Linked DNA regions of Homo sapiens. The protein of the gene in region 1 interacts with the protein of each later gene in a pairwise test. Each region holds a gene or a part of one and is shown on either strand. Other genes may lie near its edges.

The links.
Region 2: the proteins of NPR1 (region 1) and PRKG1 interact in a two-hybrid assay, tested with the Homo sapiens proteins (one study listed by BioGRID).

Annotation. Positions count from the first base shown.
Region 1 is NC_000001.11:153,688,626-153,691,852, forward strand, and holds part of NPR1 (atrial natriuretic peptide receptor 1 precursor), read left to right. Parts: intron 1-327; coding exon 328-474; intron 475-562; coding exon 563-686; intron 687-827; coding exon 828-896; intron 897-1,079; exon of another isoform or gene 1,080-1,168; intron 1,169-1,180; coding exon 1,181-1,355; intron 1,356-1,658; coding exon 1,659-1,757; intron 1,758-3,227. UniProt on the Homo sapiens protein: Receptor for the atrial natriuretic peptide NPPA/ANP and the brain natriuretic peptide NPPB/BNP which are potent vasoactive hormones playing a key role in cardiovascular homeostasis.
Region 2 is NC_000010.11:52,288,367-52,292,191, forward strand, and holds part of PRKG1 (cGMP-dependent protein kinase 1), read left to right. Parts: intron 1-359; coding exon 360-482; intron 483-564; coding exon 565-627; intron 628-1,857; coding exon 1,858-1,924; intron 1,925-3,825. UniProt on the Homo sapiens protein: Serine/threonine protein kinase that acts as a key mediator of the nitric oxide (NO)/cGMP signaling pathway. GMP binding activates PRKG1, which phosphorylates serines and threonines on many cellular proteins.

The DNA.
Region 1 (3,227 bases):
CACACCCTTCTGTGGACATCACTTTGTCCGCAATTGACCCTTGTCATTCTCCACCTCCTTTACCTCCTTCTAACTCACTGGGTTCAACAAAGATGAACAAAATGTCCATATGTCTGAAGCTTCATACTTGACCTTGGGGTCTCAGAAAAGAATTGAACTTTCTTCCTTCTGTTTTCCCCTGCTCCCCGGTATCCTGCTATGCCCTCAACCCTGAGCGTCTCTAGAGACCTCACTGCAGTCTGGAGGGGGAAGTGCCTAGGGGCGGGCGCTCACGGTAGGCTGTGCTGCTCCTCTCTTACCACCCCCACCGCCACCCTCTGCCCCCAGGGAGAACAGCAGCAACATCCTGGACAACCTGCTGTCCCGCATGGAGCAGTACGCGAACAATCTGGAGGAACTGGTGGAGGAGCGGACCCAGGCATACCTGGAGGAGAAGCGCAAGGCTGAGGCCCTGCTCTACCAGATCCTGCCTCAGTGAGTGCCTGAGTCTGGGGACCCCCCCCAACACAAAGCCCCTGTCCCGACCCCCAACTCTGATCCTGCACCTGCCCTGACCCCTTAGCTCAGTGGCTGAGCAGCTGAAGCGTGGGGAGACGGTGCAGGCCGAAGCCTTTGACAGTGTTACCATCTACTTCAGTGACATTGTGGGTTTCACAGCGCTGTCGGCGGAGAGCACACCCATGCAGGTAGGCCAGGGTTCAGCCACAGGTGCCAGGCAAGCTCAGCATCTGGATCCCACCAGACCTGCCTTCTGGTTCTGCTTTACCCACCTGACCCCAGGTGGGGTCCCCTACTTCCTGTCTCTCTTAGCTTCTCTTCCCTTCCAGGTGGTGACCCTGCTCAATGACCTGTACACTTGCTTTGATGCTGTCATAGACAACTTTGATGTGTACAAGGTGAGGGTGGGAGTGGGGATGGGAAGGGACAGACAGACATGGACAAGGTCAGAAAAAGATGAGGGGTAGGCAGAATGATGTGGAGTCTTAAGAGAGGAGATCGGGGACACGGGCAGAGACAGTGACACAGGGAGACCCGGGAACAGGCAGAGAACCCATGTGGGATGGGGGATGAGCAAAGACAGATGAGGGTACAGAATGACAGACGCTGCACCCGGTGTGACGGTGTGGCCGGCCGCACAGTTGCAGCCGTCAAGTCCTGCACCCCCTCGCCACTCCCACAGGTGGAGACAATTGGCGATGCCTACATGGTGGTGTCAGGGCTCCCTGTGCGGAACGGGCGGCTACACGCCTGCGAGGTAGCCCGCATGGCCCTGGCACTGCTGGATGCTGTGCGCTCCTTCCGAATCCGCCACCGGCCCCAGGAGCAGCTGCGCTTGCGCATTGGCATCCACACAGGTAAGGCCACTGAAGGTGCAGGCGGGCATCCAGAGGCCAAGGCTTCGCAAGGGAAACTTGTCCCCTGGCCCAGCCCCTCGCCCTTTCATCTCTCTCTCTCTCTCTCTCTCTCTCTCTCTCTCTCTCTGTCTCTCTCTCTCTCTCTCTCTCTCTCTCTCTCTCACACACACACACACACACACACACAGAGCTGGGACCTCAGATCCTGCCTCCTGCCTGTCTTGGATTGTCCACCTACCTCCCTTAACACCCCTCCCTCCCTCACTCGCTGATGGGCTCTGCTCCTTCCCTTGCTCCTCCCAGGACCTGTGTGTGCTGGAGTGGTGGGACTGAAGATGCCCCGTTACTGTCTCTTTGGGGATACAGTCAACACAGCCTCAAGAATGGAGTCTAATGGGGAAGGTACAGTGCCCCCTCCTAGAGGGAATGGGGAGGGCAGGGTGGCTGAGGGAAATGCCATCCTGGGGCAGCCTGTGCCTGCACAGCCCGTTTCAGCTCCTAGCCCTTTCGCCTCCCAAGTTCCCCTTCTCATAATATTAAGAGTTCAACCTGGGCTCATCAACTTGACTGTAACCAGAGACTCAGGTTCCTGCTGCCCCTCTTGTCAAACGATGTAAAAGTATTTCCGGGCCAGTGCTGGAGAGTTCCCAGCAGGAATCTGATTTTAAGACCCTCTGTGGGCCGGGCGTGGTGACTCACACCTGTAATCCCAGCACTTTGGGAAGCTGAGGCAGGCGGATCACCTGAGGTCGGGGGTTCGAGACCAGCCTGACCAACATGATGAAATCCCGTCTCTACTAAAAATACAAAAAACTAGCCAGGTGTGATGGCAGGCTCCTGTAATCCCAGCTACTTGGGAGGCTGAGGCAGAAGAATTGCTTGAACCCGGGAGGCAGAGGTTGCGATGAGCCAAGATTACACCACGCACCCCAGCTTGGGCAATAAGAGTTAAACTCTGTCTCAAAAAAAAAAAAAAAAAAAAAAAAAAAGACCCTCTGCTCCACCTTTGATGTGGTAAAGATGGCTTCAGAGCCAGCATAAGTGAGGCTGTGAATCTCAGCTCCACAGCTGGCTGTGTGTCAGTTTGCTATACCTCTCTGAGCCATGGTTTTCCTCATCTGTAAAAAGAGGGAAAAAATCTATCTCACAGGAATTATGTGAGAAACCCATTAAAAATGTCTACCACATAATTGTCATTTAACTTTTCCAAGCCTTAGCGGATTATCTGTAAAATGATGTCTATCTCAGGATTGCAAGAAGCCTAGCACAAACCCTGGTACCCAGCAGGCACCTAATAAATTCTTACTCCTACCCGCCCCTTGCTCTTGCCTCCTGTTTATCTTCTATCCTTCTGCTGTATTCGACACAATTCAATGCAGTAAACATTTATTGAGTGACTACTGAGTGCCAGGCCCTGGGATAGTAACATGGCCCAGATCCAGAGTTAGCTGAGAAATTCATGTGGACCCCATCTAAACCTTATGGTGAAAGAAAGGCTGCTTGGGAGCCAGTCCTGGGAGCCCAGAGGGATCTAGTTCGGCAAATATTCCCTGGGCACTATTTTGGGGGCTGTCAGAGTACAGCCCCTTGTTGAGGGTCCAGTCCTCAAGGAGCACATTCCCAGAAATTGTTCAACATTCTGGGCGCTGGGGGTGCTTGTAATCCCAGCACTTTGGGAGGCCGAGGTGGGCAGATCACTTGAGGCCAGGAGTTGGAGACTAGCCTGGCCAACATGGTGAACCTCCTGTCTCTACTAAAAATACAAAAAATTAGCTGGGCGTGGTGGCACGTGCCCGTAATCCCAGCTACTCAGGAGGCTGAGACATGAAAATCACTTGAACCCAGGAGGTGGATGTTGCAGTGAGCCGAGAC
Region 2 (3,825 bases), on another chromosome or scaffold:
CCCTCCTAATGATTTTGGACTTCATCTCAAGTATAATCAATGAGTCAGTAAGTGTGGAAAAGGTCAGAGAGTAGAAGAAGCATCTTGAATGACCAAGGACAGCATGAGGGCTTAGACTCCAGCACTTAAAAGAAAGCAAGAGAAGAGCAGATAAACTTGACCCATTTCTGGTTTCACTAAGTGATTTACTTGGAAGGGCTTCCACACTGTTTTGCTATTAATCTATTTTCATTCCATTGTCACTATTAATCTAAGCCCCCAAATATGAATTGATGTCATCTGTGGAGTTTATAGCAATTCAAGTGTTCTCATGTAGAAAATAAAAGTAATATCTCTTGTCGTGTCTCTCATTCTTGCAGCCCACCTTTCTCAGGCCCAGATCCTATGAAAACCTATAACATCATATTGAGGGGGATTGACATGATAGAATTTCCAAAGAAGATTGCCAAAAATGCTGCTAATTTAATTAAAAAACTATGCAGGTAAGTATTTCAACCACATTATTTTTGAAAACATCATAATGTGAAAAAATTAGATTTAATAAAACCATTATTTTATTTTTAGGGACAATCCATCAGAAAGATTAGGGAATTTGAAAAATGGAGTAAAAGACATTCAAAAGCACAAGTAAGTGTTCTTTCTGCAGAGTTCTGAACACGTGACATCATTTCCCCAGGGTGTTGCTTTTTAAGTTATTGGTGTAAAACTAGTATAATTAGCCTATAGGAACATCCAAAGACAGCGTATAAACTAGTAAGGCTTTTAAATGCCTTTCTAGTTGTGATTATGAAACCTTATTTATATTTATCTGACAACCCTGTAACATAAGAAGCTGAACTCAGTTTCTTACAACTCATACCAACTAGCATTTTTTTCCCCTCTGGCACAAAGGGGAAATGTGTATTTTAAATTTGGGGATTCTATTCTCTACCACAGAATTACAAATAAAAGTCCCCTACTGTATCTTACCTGATTTCCTAAAGACAAAATATATTTTTCCAAGCATTTCCTAATTAGATGTTATAACAGGAGAAAAACATAAGTACAGAATACAGTGTTTTTTAAACAATAGCAACATCTTAAATATCAGACCTTCCCTATGTTGATTGGATGTTCTAAAGCTAAACTAATTGGGTTTTCTCTATTTGTTTGTGTAACACTGACAGGAAATTCACATCCTTATCAAAGAAACATGTTTACTAAAATATCTCTGAATATCTGAAAAGCCTGCTAAGAATTTGTTGTAAGCATTTGCTAATGCTGAAACCCTTCAAAGACAAAAGAAAACAAACAAGCAAAAACTTTAGTCTTTTTTGGTTCTTATTTTCACAGAAAAACTGTACACAAAATATCTTTATTCTTCATTAAAAAAGGGAAAAAAAGAAGAAAATGGGACATGTAGAGACTATGACAATGATGTGAAAAGGTTAATTAGCTGACACTGTGCACTGAATCAGTGGCAAAAATGGAAAGTTAATTTTCTATCCTGACTTTTCATGCCCTGGTTCTACCTCCTTAAAATAAAATATCCTGTAAGGCACAGGGCCAGACACATTATGACATGTATTAAATTTTAATTATAGTGTAGGAACAAGGTCATAGAGACATTATGACTGAATTACAAGGAATAAGTGTTGCATGTTAATTGGTGTTTAAAATTTGACAGTTATACTTTTAAAAATATGTATTTCATAAAATAAACTATTAGGAAAACATATGCAATTAAATAGAAAACATTTTTGTCACATGAAAATGTTTGCCTAACTGCTTCCCATTAGCCATGGACATTGTATACACTGCAATGAGAAGCTTTTAGCTGACACAAAATGTTTTTATCAACGTTTTTTCCTTTTCTAGATGGTTTGAGGGCTTTAACTGGGAAGGCTTAAGAAAAGGTACCTTGACACCTCCTATAATACCAAGTGTAAGTAGACTTTCCAGCTTATAATTGTGTGACATAATTGATGGTGTTTATGTCAGTCAACAATGATCTGTTATTTTTAAAGTTTAATCCTATGATTAAGTTAAACAAACTCTAGGAAAAATGTCACATTAAAATAATGACATATTCTAAAATCCAAACTTGAAAGCAGATAAATTTGGGGATAGTCACTGTAAATGTGTTTTACTCTTCTCTTTTTTAACTATTCATTTGATTCAAGTTTCCCTCATTTATGAACATAAGTTAATTTTTAGCATGGGAAATGTTCAAAATATAGAAATGCAGACAAAAATATATAGGTGAGAGGATCACTTGAGGCCAGGAGTTCAAGAGTTCAAGACCAGCCAGCCTGGACAACATAGTGAGACTCTGTCTCTACAAAAAAAGAAAAGAAAATACTAGCCAGGTGTGCTGATGTGCACCTATAGTCCTAACTACTCAAAAGTCTGGAGCAGGAGGATCACTTGAGCCCAGGAATTTGAGCTTACAGTGAGCTGTGATTGTACCACTATACTTCAGCTTGGGTGACAGAGTGGAAAGACCCTGTCTCTAAAAAAAGAAATAAAATAACACTTTTTCAAAGAGTCTTTACATGATCACTCTTTTTTTTTTTTTTTTTTAATTTTTTTTTTGAGATGGAGTCTTAATCTGTCACCCAGGCTGGAATGCAGTGGCGTGATCTCGGCTTACTGCAACCCCTGCATCCCAGGTTCAAGCAATTCTCCTGCCTCAGTCTCCTGAGTAGCTGGGATTGTAGGCAAGTGCCACCACTCCCAGCTAATTTTGGTATTTTTAGTAGAGACACAGTTTCACCATGTTGGCCAGGCTGGTCTTGAATTCCTGACCTCAAGTGATCCTCCCACCTCGGCCTCCCAAGGGTTGGGATTACAGACGTGAGCACCGCGCTGGGCCTACGTGATCACTCTTTTATTTTTTTATTTTTTTATTTTTTTATTATTATTATACTTTAAGTTTTAGGGTACATGTGCACAATGTGCAGGTTAGTTACATATGTATACATGTGCCATGCTGGTGTGCTGCACCCATTAACTTGTCATTTAGCATTAGGTGTATCTCCTAAAGCTATCCCTCCCCCCTCCCCCCACCCCACAACAGTCCCCAGAGTGTGATGGTCCCCTTCCTGTGTTCATGTGTTCTCATTGTTCAGTTCCCACCTATGAGTGAGAATATGCGGTGTTTGGTTTTTTGTTCTTGCGATAGTTTACTGAGAAATGATTTCCAATTTCATCCACGTCCCTACAAAGGACATGAACTCATCATTTTTATGGCTGCATAGTATTCCATGGTGTATACGTGCCACATTTTCTTAATCCAGTCTATCATTCTTGGACATTTGGGTTAGTTCCAAGTCTTTGCTATTGTGAATAGTGCCGCAATAAACATACGTGTGCATGTGTCTTTATAGCAGCATGATTTATAGTCATTTGGGTATATACCCAGTAATGGGATGGCTGGGTCAAATGGTATTTCTAGTTCTAGATCCCTGAGGAATCGCCACACTGACTTCCACAATGGTTTAACTAGTTTACAGTCCCACCAACAGTGTAAAAGTGTTCCTATTTCTCCACATCCTCTCCAGCACCTGTTGTTTCCTGACTTTTTAATGATCGCCATTCTAACTGGTGTGAGATGGTATCTCATTGTTGTGTTGATTTGCATTTCTCTGATGGCCAGTGATCCAGTGATGATGAGTATTTTTTCATGTGTTTTTTGGCTGCATAAATGTCTTCTTTTGAGAAGTGTCGGTTCATGTCCTTGGCCCACTTTTTGATGGGGTTGTTTGTTTTTTTTCTTGTAAATTTGTTTGAGTTCATTGTAGATTCTGGATATTAGCCCTTTGTCAGATGAGTAGGTTGCGAAAA